Regions from separate parts of the Homo sapiens genome. Here region 1 is linked to region 2. The links come from fine-mapping of genetic effects on gene expression. Tissue or cell type: thyroid. Region 2 holds a variant in brackets; the other region holds the start of a gene. All regions are shown on one strand. Distances are from middle to middle.

What was found. PIP is the estimated chance that this variant, and not a neighbour inherited with it, causes the effect.
Region 1: it holds the start of GJA5, and the variant in region 2 is the best candidate, but not a certain one, in a credible set for the expression of GJA5 in thyroid (GTEx, PIP 0.80).

Annotation. Positions count from the first base shown.
Region 1 is chr1:147,756,108-147,766,274 of GRCh38, reverse strand. GJA5 (gap junction protein alpha 5) reads left to right here and starts at 5,673. Exons shown (of 2, transcript NM_181703.4): 1 at 5,673-5,776; 2 at 7,004-10,076. The coding sequence starts at 7,037. The coding sequence ends at 8,113. The region is part of intron 1 of LOC102723321 (a long non-coding RNA gene); the gene reads right to left. RefSeq lists a silencer at 7,600-7,894.
Region 2 is chr1:147,812,447-147,822,613 of GRCh38, reverse strand. No RefSeq gene overlaps it. Among named protein-coding and RNA genes, the nearest start is that of GJA5, 57 kb to the right of the region's middle. The variant T/A (reference allele first, on the strand shown) is at 5,691.

The sequences.
Region 1 (10,167 bases), 56 kb after region 2:
GTATTGAGCACTAAGGGGTTTGGGGTGGAGGGAATTTCAGGAGGATAATACAATGATGAACAGAAAAGCAGTTTGTCTTCAAAGAGCTCAGGGTTGAGTGGGAGAGAGAATACATGGCCTGTAGAGCAACTAATTCTCAGGTGTGTGAGACCTCCAAGGCTTTACAGTTCAGCCCAAGGCCCAGCTGCTGACTTGGGGGACACAGAAATTATTGTAAAATACTATATTAGAAAGGCTATTATGTGTGACTCCACAGGACAGAACTGGAATCAAGAGAAAGAAGAGAATTTTCAAGGCATCCCTATGGTAGGGCCTCACTCACTAGCAATATACCTTCTTAAGCAGGAGAGACGAGGGTGCAGTCACAGCAAGTGTGCTGGGAGGTACCTGTCATCTGCAGCCTACCTAGTTGATGCTGCAGCCACTACTAAAAGACTGCTACAAGCATGGACATTACTAATTGTGCAGTCCTTTACATCCCCAACCCCATTTGGAGGCTTCAGATTAGGCCCTCAGGAGCAAATAATGGACTAAGCATGGCCTATCATGTGGGTTGAGAATGACTCCAAACTCCTAGGCATGGCTGTTAAAGCCCTCCACAATCTGCTCCTGCCTGCTATGCAGACTCTCCTTCCATGCTCTGCTCATTGTACTCTAAAACCATGCTGGTTTTCATTTCAATGAATTTGTTCATGCAGTCTTGCCTTTGTCTGAAATCCCCTCATCTCTTCTGCAACTCCTCCATCCACTCCACACCCCTACAGACATCACATACCCCTAACTCCTACACCAGAGTTATCTCCACTGGGAAGTCCTCTCGAAGGTCTAAGAATTGATGAGCTCCACTCTTGGAGGGGAGATGGAATGAAACTTTCTGGCATGCACCAGACTTGAACAGAAACTCTGGAATGAAGCCCTGGTTCTTCCCCCATTAATTGTTTATTTGAACGAATCACTTTTATATGTTTCCTCCTCTGCAAAACACAGGCAATAACAATCACCCCACAGAGTGGTTATGAGGATTCATTCATTCAACAATAAAAATTGAATGTCTATAACATTCTGAAGGTATTCGGTCTTGAACAGAACAAATATGATCCTGCTCTCTTGGAACCAACAAGAGAATGTAGAAGCACATTTTGAACAGTATGTAAGCTTTTATTTTTATTTATTTATTGTGAGGTTTTATTTTTACTGCTGACCTTAAGAAGAAAGACTTGAGCCTCCTTAGGACCTCTTTGCAATCTTACTGCTAGCCAAACATTTTCTTCAATCATTAAGAAAGCATTTATTGTGTACCAAATGAGAGAACCTAATGCAATAAGAATGCAAAGTAGAAGACAGGGCTTTTAACTTTGAGAAGCATACTACCCATTTGAGAGAAAAAGCTGTTAAATACTTGACAGAAGGAATCATGCCTGACTTTATTAATTTTTTTTTTTTTTTTTTTTGAGACGGAGTCTCACTCTGTTGCCTAGGCTGGAGTGCACTGACGTGATCTCAGCTCATTGCAACCTCCACCGCCCGGATTCAAGCAACTCTCCTGCCTCAGCCTCCTGAGTAGCTGGGATTACAGGTGCCCACCACCACACTGGGCTAATTTTTGAATTTTATTAGAGATGGGGTTTCACCATGTTGGCCAGGCTGGTCTTAAACTCCTGACCTCAGATGATCTGCCCGCCTCGGCCTTCCAAAGTGCTGGAATTACAGGCATGAGCTACCACACCCGGCCGATTTTATTAATTTAATAGACACCATTGAGTGCCCAGTGTGTGTCAGGCCTTGCACCTCTTTGGTACTGTTCTCATTACTCAGAACAGTGGTAGGCACATAAAGGGGACTCAGCAAAGTATCTGCAGGTTGGCTGATAGACAAATGTTTGGAAAACAAGTCTAAGGAAATATATAACCAAGTGTGAGGATGTATCCTCCATGCTGGATGGTAATTAAAATTGCTACCATGTACCAGATGCTCAGTCTTCTGGAGTTCAGGGGACACCAAAGAGGGCTGAGGTCAATTTTAGAAGACTTATCCATTTTGCTGTAGATTTGCGGAGTCAGAGGAAGAGGTTCTGGCTATGAGTTTATGATTAATCTGGGTTGCTCTGAAATGATTTTCTTTGAAAAACACTGGCCGTGTAGGGGGACCACGAGAAGGAGCACTGGGCCGGGCATGGTGGGTCATGCCTGTAATCCCAGCACTTTGGGAGGCCAAGGCGGGAGGATCAACTGAGGTCAGGAATTTGAGACCAGCCTGGCCAACATGGTGAAACCCCTTCTCTACTAAAAATACAAAAACTAACCAGGTGTGGTGGCACACACCTGTAATCCCAGCTACTCCAGAGGCTAAGGCAGGGAGAATTGCTTGAAACTGGGAGGCAGAGGTTGCAGTGAGCTGAGATGGTGCCACTGCACTCCAGCCTGGGTGACAAAGCGAGACTTCATCTCAAAAAAGAAAAAAAGAAGCACTGGATTCAGAATGTAGGTGCCTGAGCTTTATTTCTGGTCATTGGCCATACAGTACATGAAATAAAATCATAAAATGATTCATGCTCACTATACACAAAATCCTTCCTCTGGCCCTCTTCCTCTTATCTAAGCACCATGTTGCTATTGCCAAACAAGTTTCCTAGTGGCCCCTCCAAAATTTGCTTTATCTCAGGATAGGACAAGTTGAAAGAGGATGTTGAAGGTTTGGGAGTGAAGAACCTTTAGAGTTGGGATGGTTCTCTTCCAGGTTCTAGGGACCATCTCTTTTTGCCTTGCTGATTTCAGAACTTGTATCAGTGGCAGAGGGCTTTAGAACGCAATTCCCTAGGACTCTCCCCAAAACCCAAAAACCAGATTCAGGCTCCTGCCCCACATTCCCATGACACCTTATACTTCCTTTATGTTAACACACATTGTGTTTTACTGAAATCATGTATTTAATGTCTGCTGTTAATAAAGGGGTATAAAGGCAGTTACACTCAGTGAAGTCAGGGAATCCCTTGTTTGTTTCCCCTCCTTCCTGCTGTATCCTCATTGTCCAGAATGATGGCTGGCACCCTGTAGCCACTCAATAAACGTATTAAATGAATTTTAAAAAGGACATTCTAGGCAGAGGGAACATAAGAAGCCAAGATAAATGGGTGAGAAATGGTGAGATGCACATAAGTACATGTGAAATTGTGTAGCTTAAGTATTGAGTGTGTGAGTGGAAAAGTGGAAAAATGATAGCATAAGACTGTACAGGGTTTCACATGGCAAGTTAAGCAGTTTGGACTTTCTAAGTGGTAGGAAGCCAGTGAGGATAACTGCTAAAGCAGTGAGGTAAATTGCCATTGTGTTTGATAGCATTTATTCATGGCATGGGCAGCTTCCTTTGCCCCTCCTAATACACTTCCTGCCAAGAAGCAGATAATAATCTACAAAGTATTTTATATGCTATACGCCCAGTAAACTCACTGAGTATCTAATCTACAAATTTCTTTGGCTGAGATGGGGTATCCAAAGGGAGCCAACGTAGCTGGAAAAGTAACTACAGCCAGAGACCTTTCACATTATAAACTGAGCATCTGGTACATGGTAGCTATTTTAAGTTTCTCTGACCTTGCCTGAGCGTCAGCAGGAAGTCATACATGAAAAACCCTTCACCCTATTTCCTCTGCCTGGGCCCAGGAGGTCTGCCTCACCCCTATACCTCCTCAGATAGTTTCTCTTTTTCCCTCCCAATAAGATATCCTTCCTAATACTGCCTTTCTGGTTTTCCAAGGTGTTCCTTTCTTGTATCTGTGCTTTACCTCTTCCAGGTGGAATTCCTTGGACAGCAGTGAAGGAGTCAGCAGTCAAGCCTCTTGGCAGACTAGACCAAAGGGTCACATTCTTTGCCTGGAACTATTTTTATACTTCCTTGGGGACTTGCAAGGAATGAGTGACAGAGTGAGAAGATCAAGGGAGAAGTCTTCAGGGACTGAGTGTGGAAAACTTGCCCCAAATCCTGGAAGAATATGACATTTGTTTCTTTTTTTTTCTATTTCCATTTTCCTCTCATTTCCTCCCCTTCTACTCTTGCTCCCATTTCTTTTCTCCTTTGTAATGCACCTTTCTCTACTTTCTGCTTTCTCTTTTTCCCTCCTTCTTCTACTCTCATCCTTCCCCACTGCTCTTGTTGCTAGTAATGGCTACCTTTTATTCAGTTCTTATTTGCTGAACACTGTGTTAAGTGCTTTGCACGCATCATCTCATAGCACTCTATGAGTTAATAGTATGTCCATTTTGCAGGTGAGGAAAGTGGAACACAGATTGAATCATTTATCTAAGCCCAGCAGATGGTAATAGAAATTTGTCAAACCTCAGTAAGCTAACTCCTGCATCTGTCTTTTCTTAACCCTACATGGTCTTTTTCTCCATTTCCAACTCTCCCTTGTCCTTCCCTTTTCTTCTCTTCTTTTTATTCCTCCCCTTCTCTCCCTCCCTCTTTTTCTCAGACATTTACCATAGTTCAGTCACTGCACGTGTGTGGCTGACCCTGAAGGTGCTGAACACTGTACATGTGCCCAGAAGAGAGGACAGACAATTCAAACTCTTATCTAATCAGCCATTTTCCTTTTGAGCACATGCTCCACAATTTTCCACATTTGGAGGCTGAAAGAGGGGGCGCTTCGCCACCTAAGGAAATGGGGCAGATGTCTGATCACAAATGACAGGAAAGGCCTCAAGACCTGCATGGGTCTTTGATATAGAGAGGAGCAGAGATAAGATGCTTTCCGCTCACTCAGGAACTCCCTCATTCCCAGGGACACTGTATACTCTCAAGTTTGGGGACCTGGGGTCTGAGAGAATACAGGGCCAGGAGGTTGGTCCCTGTCAAGGCAACAATCAACTCAAGAGCTGAGGAAGCCTGGACTATGAAATGCACCACCCTGACCCCATCTTTCCCCATAAGCATGAAGAATGTTCAGACAGAAACCAGGAGCACGTTGGCAGCAAAGATATGACGGTCAAAGTTTGAATTTGACAAACCTCTAAGGACCCACCCAAATCTGAGGTTTATGATTCTAAGAAAGGAATATTTATGCTCCATTCCCTCCGAGACGTTTGTCATCCTGTTGGTTAGGAATGGTTAGAGGCTTAAACTGTAAGAACATTCGTTATTCACTAAGTAAGAATTCTGGAGGTAGGGAGCCTCAAGAGTTGCTTCAGAGGCCTCAGGGCACTGGTTGACATTTCTGAGATTCTCTGGACAGCTTTAGACATCTTGGTTCATACAACTCTGTCCACAGGCAGGAAGCGGTGGGGCTAAGTGAGGCTCACTCCTATTCACCGGGGGATGGGAGCACTGTGAGTAGTCTCCCTCCTGTTCACCAGGGGATGGGAGCACTGTGAGTGAGGTTCCCTCTTGTTCACAGGGGGATGGGAGCACTGTGAGTGAGGCTCTCTCCATTTACTGGGGGGTAGAAAAACCTTTTCTGGAGCATTCCCTCTACTTTAGATTCTCCCCATACCTCACCTACCAGAACTAACTGCAGAGGAGATTAAGAAAGTGATACCTGGCTTTTTCACCCTGCCAATGGGAGGCAGGCAAGAAACAGGGAATTGGTTTTCTATTGGGTAGGAAACAACAGTGCCTGTCAGCCCCTCCTTCATTCACTCAACTAAGATATATTAAACACCTACTCTGGGCCAGGCTCTGGTGATACAGAAGAAAAGACAGTCTCCATTTTCAAACAGTCCCTCCTGGGAGAACACAGACAGGCAGAGGATTACAACACAAGGCAGCAAGCACTGGGAGACGAGTAAGTGTCCCGGGGGCCATCACAGGAGCTGAAGAGGCTCAGCTTGAGGGAGGAGGGAGGGCTGGAGGAGGCAATGACTGGGTTAAGTTTTGAAAGGTAAATGGGATTCAGCTAGGGGTGAGGGGACATGTAGGGGTACAGAAGGAGGGCATTTGGGAAGACTTGGCATGGCTGGACAAAAGGAACTCATGTGGACAGGCAGGAACAGGCTGGAAAAGCAGACAAAGGCCAGATGAGGGAGGATTTTGTAAGGGACATAAAGTTTTGGGACATTTATTCTGGACATAAGGGTGGGCAGATCTGTGTGTGGGAACCTTATTTAAATGAGACACAGAAACTTAGCAGCAGGGCGAGCTGAGCTGTGTGGCTGGAATGGCTGTGTTGCACCGAGGCATGGGAGATCAACATTGCCTTACCAGCCAGGGGAAGTGAGCACTCATCTGTGATACTGTTAGCTGGTGTGACCAAAGCACACTTTTTGTTTGCCACCTCCCAACACAGCTGGTCCATGCTGGATGGTTCTGATTTTTGCAGAGTGCTTCCTGAGGGGCCAAATTTGCCAATCCCATCCTCACTCTTTCCTCCTCCACCTAGTTCTGCCCTCTGGAGCCATAAAAAAATTCCTTTTCCATCCAACAGCCATTTAAACATTTGGAACAGTTGTGGAATGATTTTCAGAATATCACACACCTCATATCATTTAATCCTCAGAATTCTCTGGTGTAGCTATTCCCATCCCCATTCGATAAATGAAGAAACAGACTCAGTGAGGTAAATGCCCAGAGTCACATTTGCAGACCCCAGTCTTGTGTTCTTTTTAATACTCGTGTTTCTCCAGGTGCGGTCCCTCACCGCCTGCATCAGAATTACTTGGGCTGCTTGTTGTAAATCCAGATTCCTGGGGGCCATCCCAGACCTCCTGAAGTAGAATTACTGGGGCAAGAGCAGAATCCATATTGTAACACACACCACGATTTCTAGATCCGTTAAAGTGTGGGAGCCATGCTCTAATTTTGCTAATATGGCTACTTTGAATCTTCTCTTTCTTTTTATTTTTGCTGGGAAAGGAGAGCGAGCTTTTCGTTGGTTGCTTTGACTTCTAAGTTGCATTTTCTTAAAGAACCCATTGGATGGATGGATCAGTGGAATCCCAGAACATGATAGACATTCCAGACCTTCACAGAACATCCTTCTTCTTTTCTCTCTTTCTCTCTCTCCCATTTGCAGAAGTTTTGGCATCTGTTCCCTGGCTGTGCCAAGATGGGCGATTGGAGCTTCCTGGGAAATTTCCTGGAGGAAGTACACAAGCACTCGACCGTGGTAGGCAAGGTCTGGCTCACTGTCCTCTTCATATTCCGTATGCTCGTGCTGGGCACAGCTGCTGAGTCTTCCTGGGGGGATGAGCAGGCTGATTTCCGGTGTGATACGATTCAGCCTGGCTGCCAGAATGTCTGCTACGACCAGGCTTTCCCCATCTCCCACATTCGCTACTGGGTGCTGCAGATCATCTTCGTCTCCACGCCCTCTCTGGTGTACATGGGCCACGCCATGCACACTGTGCGCATGCAGGAGAAGCGCAAGCTACGGGAGGCCGAGAGGGCCAAAGAGGTCCGGGGCTCTGGCTCTTACGAGTACCCGGTGGCAGAGAAGGCAGAACTGTCCTGCTGGGAGGAAGGGAATGGAAGGATTGCCCTCCAGGGCACTCTGCTCAACACCTATGTGTGCAGCATCCTGATCCGCACCACCATGGAGGTGGGCTTCATTGTGGGCCAGTACTTCATCTACGGAATCTTCCTGACCACCCTGCATGTCTGCCGCAGGAGTCCCTGTCCCCACCCGGTCAACTGTTACGTATCCCGGCCCACAGAGAAGAATGTCTTCATTGTCTTTATGCTGGCTGTGGCTGCACTGTCCCTCCTCCTTAGCCTGGCTGAACTCTACCACCTGGGCTGGAAGAAGATCAGACAGCGATTTGTCAAACCGCGGCAGCACATGGCTAAGTGCCAGCTTTCTGGCCCCTCTGTGGGCATAGTCCAGAGCTGCACACCACCCCCCGACTTTAATCAGTGCCTGGAGAATGGCCCTGGGGGAAAATTCTTCAATCCCTTCAGCAATAATATGGCCTCCCAACAAAACACAGACAACCTGGTCACCGAGCAAGTACGAGGTCAGGAGCAGACTCCTGGGGAAGGTTTCATCCAGGTTCGTTATGGCCAGAAGCCTGAGGTGCCCAATGGAGTCTCACCAGGTCACCGCCTTCCCCATGGCTATCATAGTGACAAGCGACGTCTTAGTAAGGCCAGCAGCAAGGCAAGGTCAGATGACCTATCAGTGTGACCCTCCTTTATGGGAGGATCAGGACCAGGTGGGAACAAAGGAGGCTCAGAGAGGAAAGACGTGTCCCTTCTGAACTGATGCTTTCTCACTGTCATCACTGCTTGGCTCCTTTGAGCCCCGGGTCTCAATGACGTTGCTCATTAATTCTAGAAACTATAACCAGGGCTCTGGGATAGTAAGAGAGGTGACAACCCACCCAGACTGCAGTTCCCTCCCCACCCTCTACCCAGTATACGAAGCCTTTCAGATTACTCATGAAACAGGGTAGAGGGAAAGAAGGGAAGCATGGCAAAAGCTGGCCTGGAAGGGATAGCCAGAGGGATAGAATGACTCTCTCTCTACATACCAGCAGCATACCAAATGCGTTCTCTAAGTTCCTACCTCCTTGACCTGATCACCCTCCCTCCTCCAAGGAAGAGCTCAAAGTTCCCAGCCAATAGACAGCATGAATCAAGGAACTTGCATTATATGTGCTCTTGAATCTGTTGTCTCCATGGACCATTCCTCGGAGTAGTGGTGAGATGGCCTTGGGTTGCCCTTGGCTTCTCCTCCCTCTACTCAGCCTTAAAAAGGGCTTCTTGGAACTTTACCAGCAGCCTCAGCTTTACAAATGCCTTGGTATGTACCTCTGGCAAATGCCCTGGTATGTACCTCTGGCAAATGCCCCACCTTGGTGATGTTGCAACCTTTCCTTCTGCTAGGGTGTACACCTAGCCTGTGCAGGTGTCAGCCCTGCTAGGGAGTCACTGTACACACAAACTCTACTGGAATTCCTGCCAACATCTGTCACCCTGCAGCTCCTTTACAGTTCAATCCAATGATAGAAACCATCCCTTCCCTTTCTCCCTTGGCTGTTCACCCAGCCATTCCCTGAAGGCCTTACCAACAGGAATATCCAAGAAGCTGTTGTCCTCTCTCGAACCCTGACCAGATCATCAGCCACTGAGGCCAGTGGAATTTCCCCAGGCCTTGTTAAAACAAAGAAAGCATTGTACTTCTCAGATTCCCCTTGTGGAAAAAAAAATTCTGCTGTGAAGATGAAAATAAAAATGGAGAGAAAACACTGGAAAACTATTTTCCCCTCCTATTTACTTCCTTTGCTGACTGCCAACTTAGTGCCAAGAGGAGGTGTGATGACAGCTATGGAGGCCCCCAGATCTCTCTCTCCTGGAGGCTTTAGCAGGGGCAAGGAAATAGTAGGGGAATCTCCAGCTCTCTTGGCAGGGCCTTTATTTAAAGAGCGCAGAGATTCCTATGTCTCCCTAGTGCCCCTAATGAGACTGCCAAGTGGGGGCTGTAGAAAAGCCTTGCCTTCCCCAGGGATTGGCCTGGTCTCTGTATTCACTGGATCCATAATGGGTTGCTGTTGTTTTGGATGAAGGTAAACGATGCTTGGAATTGGAAACTGAGACTTATAGAGGGATTATTACATTATTAAAATGCACGTGTGTGTGTGTGTGGGTGCTGATGGGATGGGTAAAGGCTTGGGGAGTCCTGAAATAAGGAAAGGAAACCACAGAGAAACTTGTGTCTTCCTGCTCTCCTCTCCGGCTGCCTGGCAGTTATTAACCTAAACAGATAGCCACAAGAGGTTGGGACAGAGGAGGGTAAAGGCTCAGAAGGAGGTTCAACCTCTGACTCACCTGCCCATCTCTGGGCCCTCTGCTGACACTTGGATGCTATTGTTGGGTGGAAAGATAAATGAGAGTGGAGAGGTGGAGGAAAGTGACTAGGATGCCATTTAGGAAGGAATGTCTGATCATCCCGGGTCCCTGGAGGGGACACCTTTTAATCTATTGCCTAGCATTAATATTTTCTCTCCTTCTATCTCTGAAATGTTTTATGAAATGAGTGTTCTTGAATTAGAAATTCTGTGGGATCAATCTTTGATGGTGAGGGTTTTAGAAAGGAAAAATATAGTAAAATGTGTAATTTGTCTTAATAAAATCTATCTCTACATCTATCTCTCTTTTGTTGTCCACTTCATACTGTGACTACAAGAGAAGGATGGCAGACTTGGTGGGGAGGGGAGCGCTTGGACTATACCCATCAGT
Region 2 (10,167 bases):
ATGGGTGTCACTGTGCTTCTTAGCCTGGTCAAGCTGGAGCCATTCCATTTGTGGAAGAAGGGGAAGCTCTAGAGAATTCTCAGTGGATTTATTAGCTCTATGAAGAATGGTGTTAACTAAAGGGAAACAATTGTTCAGGTCACACAGTCTGGACTTCAATGTCAGATTTATTAAGTAATTAACTGTGACTCACTCAATGAACATCTGCTAGTTGAATTGTTTATTGGAAGGCACAGTCCTTGCCCTCAAGCAGCCTGTCTCTGAGATGGTAGGAAGGTAGGGCAGAGGGGAATGGGGATAACCAGTCTTTCTGCTTTGGCTAAAGGATGTAAGAAATGAGATAAAAATGAGCCACAGCATTAAACTACCCCAAACAAAATAATGATATGGCAATTTGACTTATTTCTCAACCTTGCATCTGTTTATGTTTCTATTTTTGGAGGATTCTCCCTCCATTCACATCACTTGGACATACTGACCACTTTCCAGGCATCTCAGCTCAGCAACACCCAGAGTGTGTGTCATAAGATCTGTGGGTCTGAGGAAATGGCAACACATGCAACAAAGGACTAAAATGTTCCAGGCTACTTGGCAAAGAAAGGTCAGCCCATGACCGAATGGGACTTAACATTGTTGGCAACAACTCTAAAAACCCTTAGTGATCAGCGAATGAAGAAGGTGTCTGTGATGACTATGCTGTTTCCAACAGTCCCAATGTCAAATTATCCAGGACTTTTTGCTGAGTTTTCTTTCTTTTGATGTAATTTCATTCTTTAAAAAGATAGTTCTTTACATACATAACTGAATGTATCTTAATTATTTTGCCTTTGAAGGACTTGTCACATAAATAAATTAACATATCTGAAAAGAAAAAAACCCATCCGTATGGTGAGGCCATGCATTCCAGTCTTTGGTTTTGGAAAATTTGGTTATGGGAGAGTTAGGAAATCAAAATCCTTTCTTGTTGTACCTAGAAGAGGCAGCTCCTTGTCAGCAATGTAGTTTAGGGGAGAGTAGAAGTTAGAAATGGGATCTAGGAGTTTTGACACAGTGGCTTCCCAGAGCAAGTTCTGGGATTACAGTCAGGTTGAGAGAAGTTGGAAAGGGACCTAACAAATATCCATGGAGCCTCTCCCTTGTGCCTGGCTCTGACCAGGTGCTTCACATGCAACTTCATTTGATCCTCACTTCTGCCCTCTGAGGTGGGCATTATTAATCCAAGTTATAGATAAAGTCACTGAGGCCCACTATTAGTACCCTTTGAAAAGAACAAACAGTGGATTTCAAAAGTTCAAAATTTCTTTTATACAAAGCATACCTATTAAAAAATACATTTTTCTAGTGCAAAAAGAAAGATGTCAGGGAAAGATTAGCTTGCTTAGAAGAGATAAGCCCTCATTCTCTGCTCACGCCACAATTCTCACTCTTTCCCCAGTAAATCCACAGGTGATACGTCATTGGCTTCATGAGAGCTTTGGAGATGATCTTACATTTGCACCTTCTTCACACCCTAAAGGGAGCTTTGAATCTCCCCCACGGTTCCCATATCTTGCATGTGAGTTATTTGAGATAACTCTCTGGAATTAGCTGATAAATCTTTCCTGGAAGCTTCTGCTTTGACTCAAGAGGAACTAAATAAAAGCTTTCAGAGTGCCATTGTGTATTATCCATGCTGTTTCACAGGAATCCCAAGTGGAGGATGCAATATATTGTTTTAATTACAAAGGGATAATAGCCCTGTGTAAGGAGTTATTTGTAATGAGCTTTGTAAAGGAGTTTTACCACGAAGAAATGAGTCTCACATAATGAGCTATAAAAGCTACTGTGATTATTATTATTGGTTTTATTCAGGGCCAGACCTCAGTGAGATTGGGACAGAGGCTGACTTTTACCTGAGCACCATTTTTCCCTGCCCCATACATCTGTTCTTCTCTGGGCATCATTGCTTTCCTCCCTTTTCATCATTCTTAGCCCCCGGAGGAGCCTAGTCCTTTCTACGAGGAGAAGAGCCTGGGTTAAATGCATTTATATAAAAGTAATAGAGATGTAATGTGTTTCTTTTCCCAGAGGTATTTACATTTTAAAACTTTGGGCTCAAGAGGGCTATACTTAATTCAAAGGAACAAGTCTCCAGTGGCGGAAATGCAGGCCTTATGGAAGGAGGAGTTTCAAGAGAGACTTTTTGAGACAAGACTAAGAAGATAGAGGAGGAAGAGGAGAAATATTAATATATTCCCACCCATTTTCATTACAAAAGGATAATGGCCTAAAATATGGCATTTGGGTGGGATGAAATCAGTTCTCCCACTTCCTGATACAATGTCTATGGAAGTGCCTGTTGGCTTTCCTCTACAGAGGGACGGCCCTTGTTTCATTTATTGCTTTCTAAATCAAATGACTCCTTTGGGAAATGGTATAGCTCAAATCAATTCAGTTCAACTTGTGGAGATGTAAATTCACCATAAAGTGGTGATACAAGTATAAAACATGGTCCTTGCCTTCAGGGAGCTATAATCCCCTTGAGAGATGCAGACGATTCTTCTCCATGATGCAGTAAGAAAATAATGTAAGACAGTGCATTATGGAGGACTATGTACAGCTTTAAAATAATTTTTTATCCCTTCTTTCTGCCCCTTGCAGCAAAAGTGCCATCTATAATATACTGTGTCGGAGATTTGAGCCTCTACTTGTTACCAATTTGCTGAGAGACAAATGCATATACAGGTTAAGTATCCCTTATTCGAAGTGCTTGTGACCAAAAGTGCTTTGGATTTCAGGTCTCTTTGAATTTTGGAATGTTCGCATTATACTTACCAGTTGAGCATCCCTAATCTGAAAATTAAAAGTCTGAAATGCTCCAATGAGCATTTTCTTGAAGCACCATGTTGACAATCAAAAAGTTTTAGATTTTGGAACATTTCGAATTTCAGTTTTGGATTAGGATTACTCAATCTGTACTAAGAAGTTTGTGGTGTTTTTCTCCACAACAAACCAACTTAATGTCGTCAATAGTTCTTTCTCTTCCATGGAAAGCCACAGGCACCCCTAAAGGGAAACTGGTTGTATCCCTCTCAACTTCCAGTTCTCTCTCTTTGTCTTTCTCTCTTTCTCTCTCTCTCTCTGTCTTACTGACCCAGGTTACGACCTGTTCTTTTCCTTGGCCTGGTCTTTCTTTTCGGATCACTGTGAATTGGGCACTTGAATTGGACTGTCTTTGAGTTTCAGGCGCTATTTTAGCCCTGAATGATTTCTCTTCCCCAGTTACTCCATACTCCCTGCTGCAGCTGCTTCTGTTCCCTTGCCCGATCTAAGCTCTATGAGGACAGTGCAGGTCAGAACTGGGCCCCTGTTTTCTCAGGAGGGGAAGTTAGGCACTGTGACCCTACTTTGCAAGAATAGCAGCCGCCGCCGCTATTCTTTATTTAGATCAATGCATGGGTATTGAGTGATTGGGTGAGCCCCTGGAGAATCCTGAGACTCTAAAAACATTTTACACCATGCAGTTTCTCCATGAGGTACTAAGGAAGTCAATAAATCTTCCCATATCACCCTGGAGGGATAACATGAAGAAAATAGATATAAAACCAAGATTTTCAGCTATTTAGTTCCCAGGATGTTAAGCAATCACAGATAACTTTTAAAAAAGAAATTCTTAAGTGTAGAGGGTACGTGGAACTTTGTACAAAGGCAGTATTGATGGTCAAAGCAAGTAAGAACTGTGCATTTGAGGCACCCACTTGAATCAATCGAGGTGATCCATCTCGTGGAAACATGGTTTTTCTGATACAGCTGAGATGTTTGCCATCATTTTAGAGCTGAGTTTCTCAAAATATGGTTTCTAGACTACCTGCATCAGAGTCACCCAGGGAGCTAGTTAAAAATATAGATTTCTGGGTTGGGGCCAAATTTGGATGCTTTCAGCTACAAATAAGAGAAAACTCAACTCAAAGTGGCTAGGGGAACTGATTAATTTAGAGACTCAATAACCTCTCCAAAGACACTTCTGCTATGATTTCAAGGTATCCCCAAAGTTCATGTGTTGGAAACTTAATCCCCAATGCAATAATGTTTAGAGGTGGAACCTTTAAGAGGTGACTAGGTCAAGAGGCCTCTGCCCTCATGAATGGATTTTTGTCATTATTGTAGGAGTAGGTTTGTTATTGACAGAGTGGGTTGTTATAAAAGCAAGTTCAGCCCTCTCTTGTTCTCTCTTGCCTTGCCAGACGCGGCCCCTTGATCTCAGACTTCTCAGTCTTCAGAACTGTGAGAAATAAATTTCTGTTCATTATAAATTACTCAGACTGTAGGATTCTGTTATAGCAGCACAAAATGAAATAAGACACAAAATTGGTACCAAGCAGTGGGGCTGTTGCTATAACAAATACCTAAAAATGTCAAAGTGACTTTGGAACTGAGTAATGGGTAGAGGCTGGAAGAATTTGGAGGAACAGGCTAGAAAAAGCCGATATTGTCATAACTTGAGCGTTAAGGGTGATTCTGGTGGGAGCTATGAAGAAGACAAGAGCTGTAGGGAGAGCCTGTCTTCTTAGGGATTACTTAAGTGGTCATGATCTGAATGTTGGTAGAAATATGGACAGTAAAGGCCATTTTGATGAGGTCTCAGACAGAAATGAGAGACAAGTTATTGGAAACTGGAGTAGAGGTCATCCTTGTTACAGAATGACAAACAATTTGGCTGAATTTATCCATGCCCAAGGGCTTTATGGAAGGCAGAATTTAAGAGCAATAAACTAGGATATCTTACAGAAGAAATCTCTAAGCACCAAAGCACCAAAGGTGCTGCATAGCTTCTTTTGGCCCCTTGCAGTAAAATGAAAAATGAGACAAATAGTTTAAAGATTGAATTTATGATCAGAAAGGAAGCAGAATATAAAAATTTAGAAAAATGTTTTCTGTCCATGTAAAGAATAAAGAAGCCTTTTTTTTTTTTTTTTTTTTTTTTGAGACAGAGTCTCACTCTGTCACCCAGGCTGGAGTGCAGTGGCACGATCTCAACTCACTGCAACCTCTGCCTCCTGGGTTCACACCATTCTCCTGGCTCAGCCTCCTGAGTAGCTGGGACTACAGGCGCCCACCACCACACCTGGCTAATTTTTTGTATTTTTAGTACAGATGGGGTTTCACTGTGTTAGCCAGGATGGTCTCGATCTCCTGACCTTGTGATCCGCCCGGCTCGGCCTCCCAAAGTGCTGGGATTACAGGCGTGAGCCACCGTGCCTGGCAAAGAAGCATGTTTATGAGAGGACACCAAGGATGCAGACAAGCAACTATTTAATAAGGAGATGATTACAGATGGAAGGAATCCAGATGCTATTCATTGAGACAATGGGAGAATGACCCCAAAGGTATTTCAGAGATCTTCAAGGCTGCCTCTTCCATCACAGGCCCAAAACTCTAAGAGGGCAGAATGATTTGGGGGGATGAGCCTTGAGTGCCCTCCATGAGCTCTCTGCTCAGGGTTGCCTTGGGATTCTGCTCCCCACATTCTGGCACAGTGCTCCTTGGTCACTCTAGCCTTGGTGAATGTAGGCCCAGATGTGGTTCGTGCCCCAGCTCCAGAGAGTGCAAGCTGTAAGCCTTGGTGTTGTCCATGTGGTGCTAACTCTGCAGACACAAAGAGTGCATGAGCTGTGGGGCCATGGCGGCCTCCACTGAGATTTCAAAGGGTG[T/A]TGTGGACAGCCTGGGGGCTCAGGCAGAAACTTGCTGCAGGAGTGAAGCTGCCACAGAGAATCCCTACCTAGGCAATGACTAGTGAAGCCATGGGAATGAGGCCACCGCAGAAAACTCCCACTATGGAAATATCTACTGGAGCTGAGGGAACAAGACCACCACCAAGACTCCAAAATTGGTGTCTCAGTTCATTTTGTGCTGCCATAACAGAATATCACTGCCTGGGTGCTTTAGTGTAATCTAGGCTGGGATTGCCGCAGATACCAGACTCCAGCTTGAGAGAGATGAAGCTTGGCTGAGCCCAGCAAAGTTGTGGGGGTAGGGCTGCCTGGGCCATGGGGGCTTAACCTCCACCCAGGTGTGCCCAGGATTCAGGATTTGGAGTCAAAGGAGATTATTCTCCAGCTTTAAGACATACTGTTGCTTTCCCTGTTGGGTTTTATAGTTAGTTAGGACCAGTTACTCCTTTCTTCTTGCCTATTTCTCCCTTTTGGAATGGGAATGTTTATTATATGCTTGTCCCACCATTGTATATCGGAAGTAGACAATATGTTTAATTTCACAGGCTCACAGCTGGAAGAATTTGCTTTGGGATGAATTCTGCCTTCAGTCTCACTGATAATCAGTTTAGATGAAACTCTGGACTTCAGACTTTTGAGGTGATGCTGGAATGAGTTAAGACTTTGGGGATATTGGGATGAAATAAATGTATTTTGCATGTGAGAAGGACATGAATTTTGGGGGTTAGGGGAAGAATGCTATGGTTCAAATGTGTCCCCCAAAGTTCATGTGTTAGAAACTTAATCCCCAATGCAATAGTGTTGGGAGGTGGGACTTTTGAGAGGTGAGACTTTTAAAAGGTGATTAGGTCGTGAGGGCTCTGCCCTTACACACGGATTTATGTCATTATTGTGGGAGTGGGTTCGTTATGGAGAGTGTGCGTTGTTATAATAAAAGTGGTTTAGCCCTCTCTTGCCCTCTCTCACCCTCTTTTGCCCTCTCTCACCCTCTCTTGCCCTTCTGCCTTCTGCCATGGGATAACTCTGCAAGAAGGTCCATGCCTGATGCTACCCTCTTGCTCTTGGACTTCTCAGCCTCAGAATTGTGAGAAAGAAGTTTCTGTTCCTTATAAATTACCCACAAATTGATATTCTGTTACAGCAGCACAAAATGAACTGAGACACCATTCTTTCTTTCTTCCCTTATGTCAGATGTGTCCTCAGGCTAGTTCCCCTCGTGGTCGGAAGATGGCTGCCATATCTCCCAAATACAGCACAATAATGGCCAGCAGAGGGAGAGACATTTATGTGATTGATGAACCCTTTTCCAGGGCTGGCTCCATGGGCAGAGACATGTGCAGTCACATAGGACCCTGTGCTCAGAAGACCCCTTTACTTGGCTTAGTACACTGCTCTCACCATCTTGAAATTATTCCTAATCTTATCTTTGAACTTTTGTTTGATAAGTGGAATCTGATGGGAAAACGGAGCAGGTCCACGAACAGAGAGAATATGTGTCTCTGCCCTTCTGTTACCCTATTTACATATAACATCTACAATGTCCCATGAGCACAGAATGTGTGGGAAGTTCAGCAAGACTCAAAGCAAGTACATGTTGTGGGGGGGAAATGTTTTTCTCTCTATCCTTCATAGTTTTTAGATAAGAAAGACTCCTGTAAAAAAAAAAAAAGACAGAATAATAAAAGAAAAAGAAACAGAAGTTTAGTAACATGTATACCTCATGTATATCTCTGGGAGATACCCAGAGAAATGAGTTAATCTCAGAACAGACTTAAATACCATTATCTGTTAAGACAAAGAAAGAAAGGTGTGGGAAAGGCTGGTTATGAGGAGATGCCCAGGAGAAGCATGGGAAACAAGGGTAAGATTGGTTATGCAGATTAAAGTCAGTGTCTTCTCCATTGATAAGTCTCTTGTTATTTAGTCAGCCTTCTCTTCCTTATACTGAGAGAAAGATGCCCTTACAAATGGAGGCTTATGGGTATAAATTTCCCTTACAAAAGGGTAACTTCTACTCTGTTTTCAGAATTTCTCCTGTGTCTGAAGTTTCTCAAAATAATCAGCTCAAAATAATCCTTATGCCAAAAAGGCATATTTGGGGGTAGATATTCTTTTCTGCCATAGTCATACTTTGGGGTGCATATTATGTTCCCCATAGTCATATTTTGGGGTAACATATTCTGGTCTCCTACAGTCACATGTTGGGGGGTGCATATGCTGGTTTCCCACAAGGGTTCCCCTTTGTTTTTCATTTATTTTCAGAGCATCTTTAGGACCAACTGCGCACACTTTGAGAAACACTTCTTCTTTGGAAGGTAGGTTTATCAAGACAGAATTTAGTGGGCGTATTTTTCTTTTCTAGATACTATGTCCAAAGTTGGGATAGGAGACACCAGAATAACAGAGAGGAATGTTCATGTTGGTGTGGGCCCACCTACCAGGCCTTCTTGGAGAGCTGAGTCTCAGAACAGTTAGTATGTGTTTCTGCTAAAGATCTTCTTTCTCTATTAAAATACAACTCTATTAGAATAACTGTACAACATTTTAGCTAATGTCCTAGTCAACTAGTCTAACATCTCCAATCCCACTCATTTTCAGAAGTTTTGATATCCCTCTTGCCCTCCACTCACAATTATTGAACTCTTTCCTGTGGCTCCTTCAGCTATTAATAATAAGTTTAGAAAGACAATAAAAATAAACAGATGATGATGGAATTTATGGCAAAGGGTCACTAATCTGACTTTCTTGCTGTACGGATAAGAAACTGAGTGTTCCAGAAAAGGAAGTGAGTTAAATAAGATTATACTGCAAGTTAGGAGCATATTCAGGCTAGAATTCAGATGCTTCATGTTCCTCTCTGGCTGGAGGTCTAACCTCCATGTGTCATTCTACATGGCTCCTTTCTCCAAACTCCTTCCTCCTACCAGCCTCAGACCTGAATTTCAAAACATCAGTTTAGTAAATACAAGTCAGTGCAATGTGACTTGGTTGAATTTCCTTAACTTCTGTTTTTCTTCATTCCTTTGACAATGTTTTAAACCTCAAAATCATCTCCACACCCTCTTTTTTGTTTCCTTTCTTTCATTCCTCCTCTGCACTTAGTCCTCCACCTCCTACTCTGTCATTTATAGCTGCCACTCTTCTTCTGTAACATTTCTTGGTGAAGCAGAATAATAATTAAAAATAAAAACTCAACTATTATCTTAGTAGCTGGCATCAGAATTCCTGTTAGGGAAGAAATAATCTGTTAAGAACACAGACTTTTTAATATTAAATTTTGATTTGTTTCCATTGCTTCTGGGTAAATCCTCCCTTCTTCATTTTTCTCAAAATGTCAGCAAAGGCCTTGTAAAATTGTAGTGTGTGTGTGTCTATGTATGTGTGTATAAGTAAATCAAGGAAAGGGACTGGGTTTCAAGGGACTGTCACTCAAGGGACTGGGTAAGAGGGCTACACGCACTGGAAGGTGAGATCACTAACAACAGAACTAATTCCAGAACCAGAGGAGGCCACAAAAAAGTAACTGCTCTGAGAGAATGCAGACATCTTGGGGAGGGCATTAAACTTTCCACAGGATGTGGAATGGAGATTCGAGCCAATCTTATCTGAATCTCAAGTGGCAGGGTGCCTGAAACTGACATTTGGGTTATGTTAGATTTTTATTTTATTTATAATATCACATCCATTTCCTTGACCCTTCATAACCTTGCCTCACCCTACAAAGCAAGTCTCCAGACAGAATCCCTCTGCTCCAGCTAGGCTAATATTGGTGTAGGCTCAAGAACACATCACATTGGCTCGGAGCTCCCACCTTGACTCAATTTCTCTGGATATTGGATCTTAAATGCCTTTCCCACCCCACTATTCTGACTCATCCCTTAGCGCCTTGCTCAAGTTCCCCTGTGAGTTTGCTCACACTCTCTCTGCTTCTGGCTGCTTACTACTCTTATAGTTGATACCCATGAGGTCTACTCTTGATTAACATGCTGTTTTGCACATGTGGGCCCATTACTGGTTCAGATCTGCTTGGTTTTCAACCTTACTGTGATGTGGGCTCATTAAGGCCAGGATCTATCTTGTTCCTTTGAACTCCACAGCACCTAGCTAGGTGCTTTGTATTAACATTAAATACTGACAGCCTACTTTAACCTTCCTCTTTGGAGCAATCCATGCACCAGACCCTTTGTTTGTTCTGCTACCTTTAGTCTCTCAGTTTTGTCCTTACTGTTAGCAGCAAGAATCCTTTTCTTTTAGGACTGTTGAATCCTCTGATCAGTCCCACTCTCAAATCAAACTCCTCTGGATGCCCTGATACCCACGAGCTAAGGTGACTGTCAGGTCCTCACAGTTCACATCCCATGATTCATGAACCCCAAGCTTGTCCTTGTTGAGTGGGTAGGACAACCGCCTTTGGAAGACCCTCTGCCACAGCTTATAATAGGTGCTTTTCTTTGAT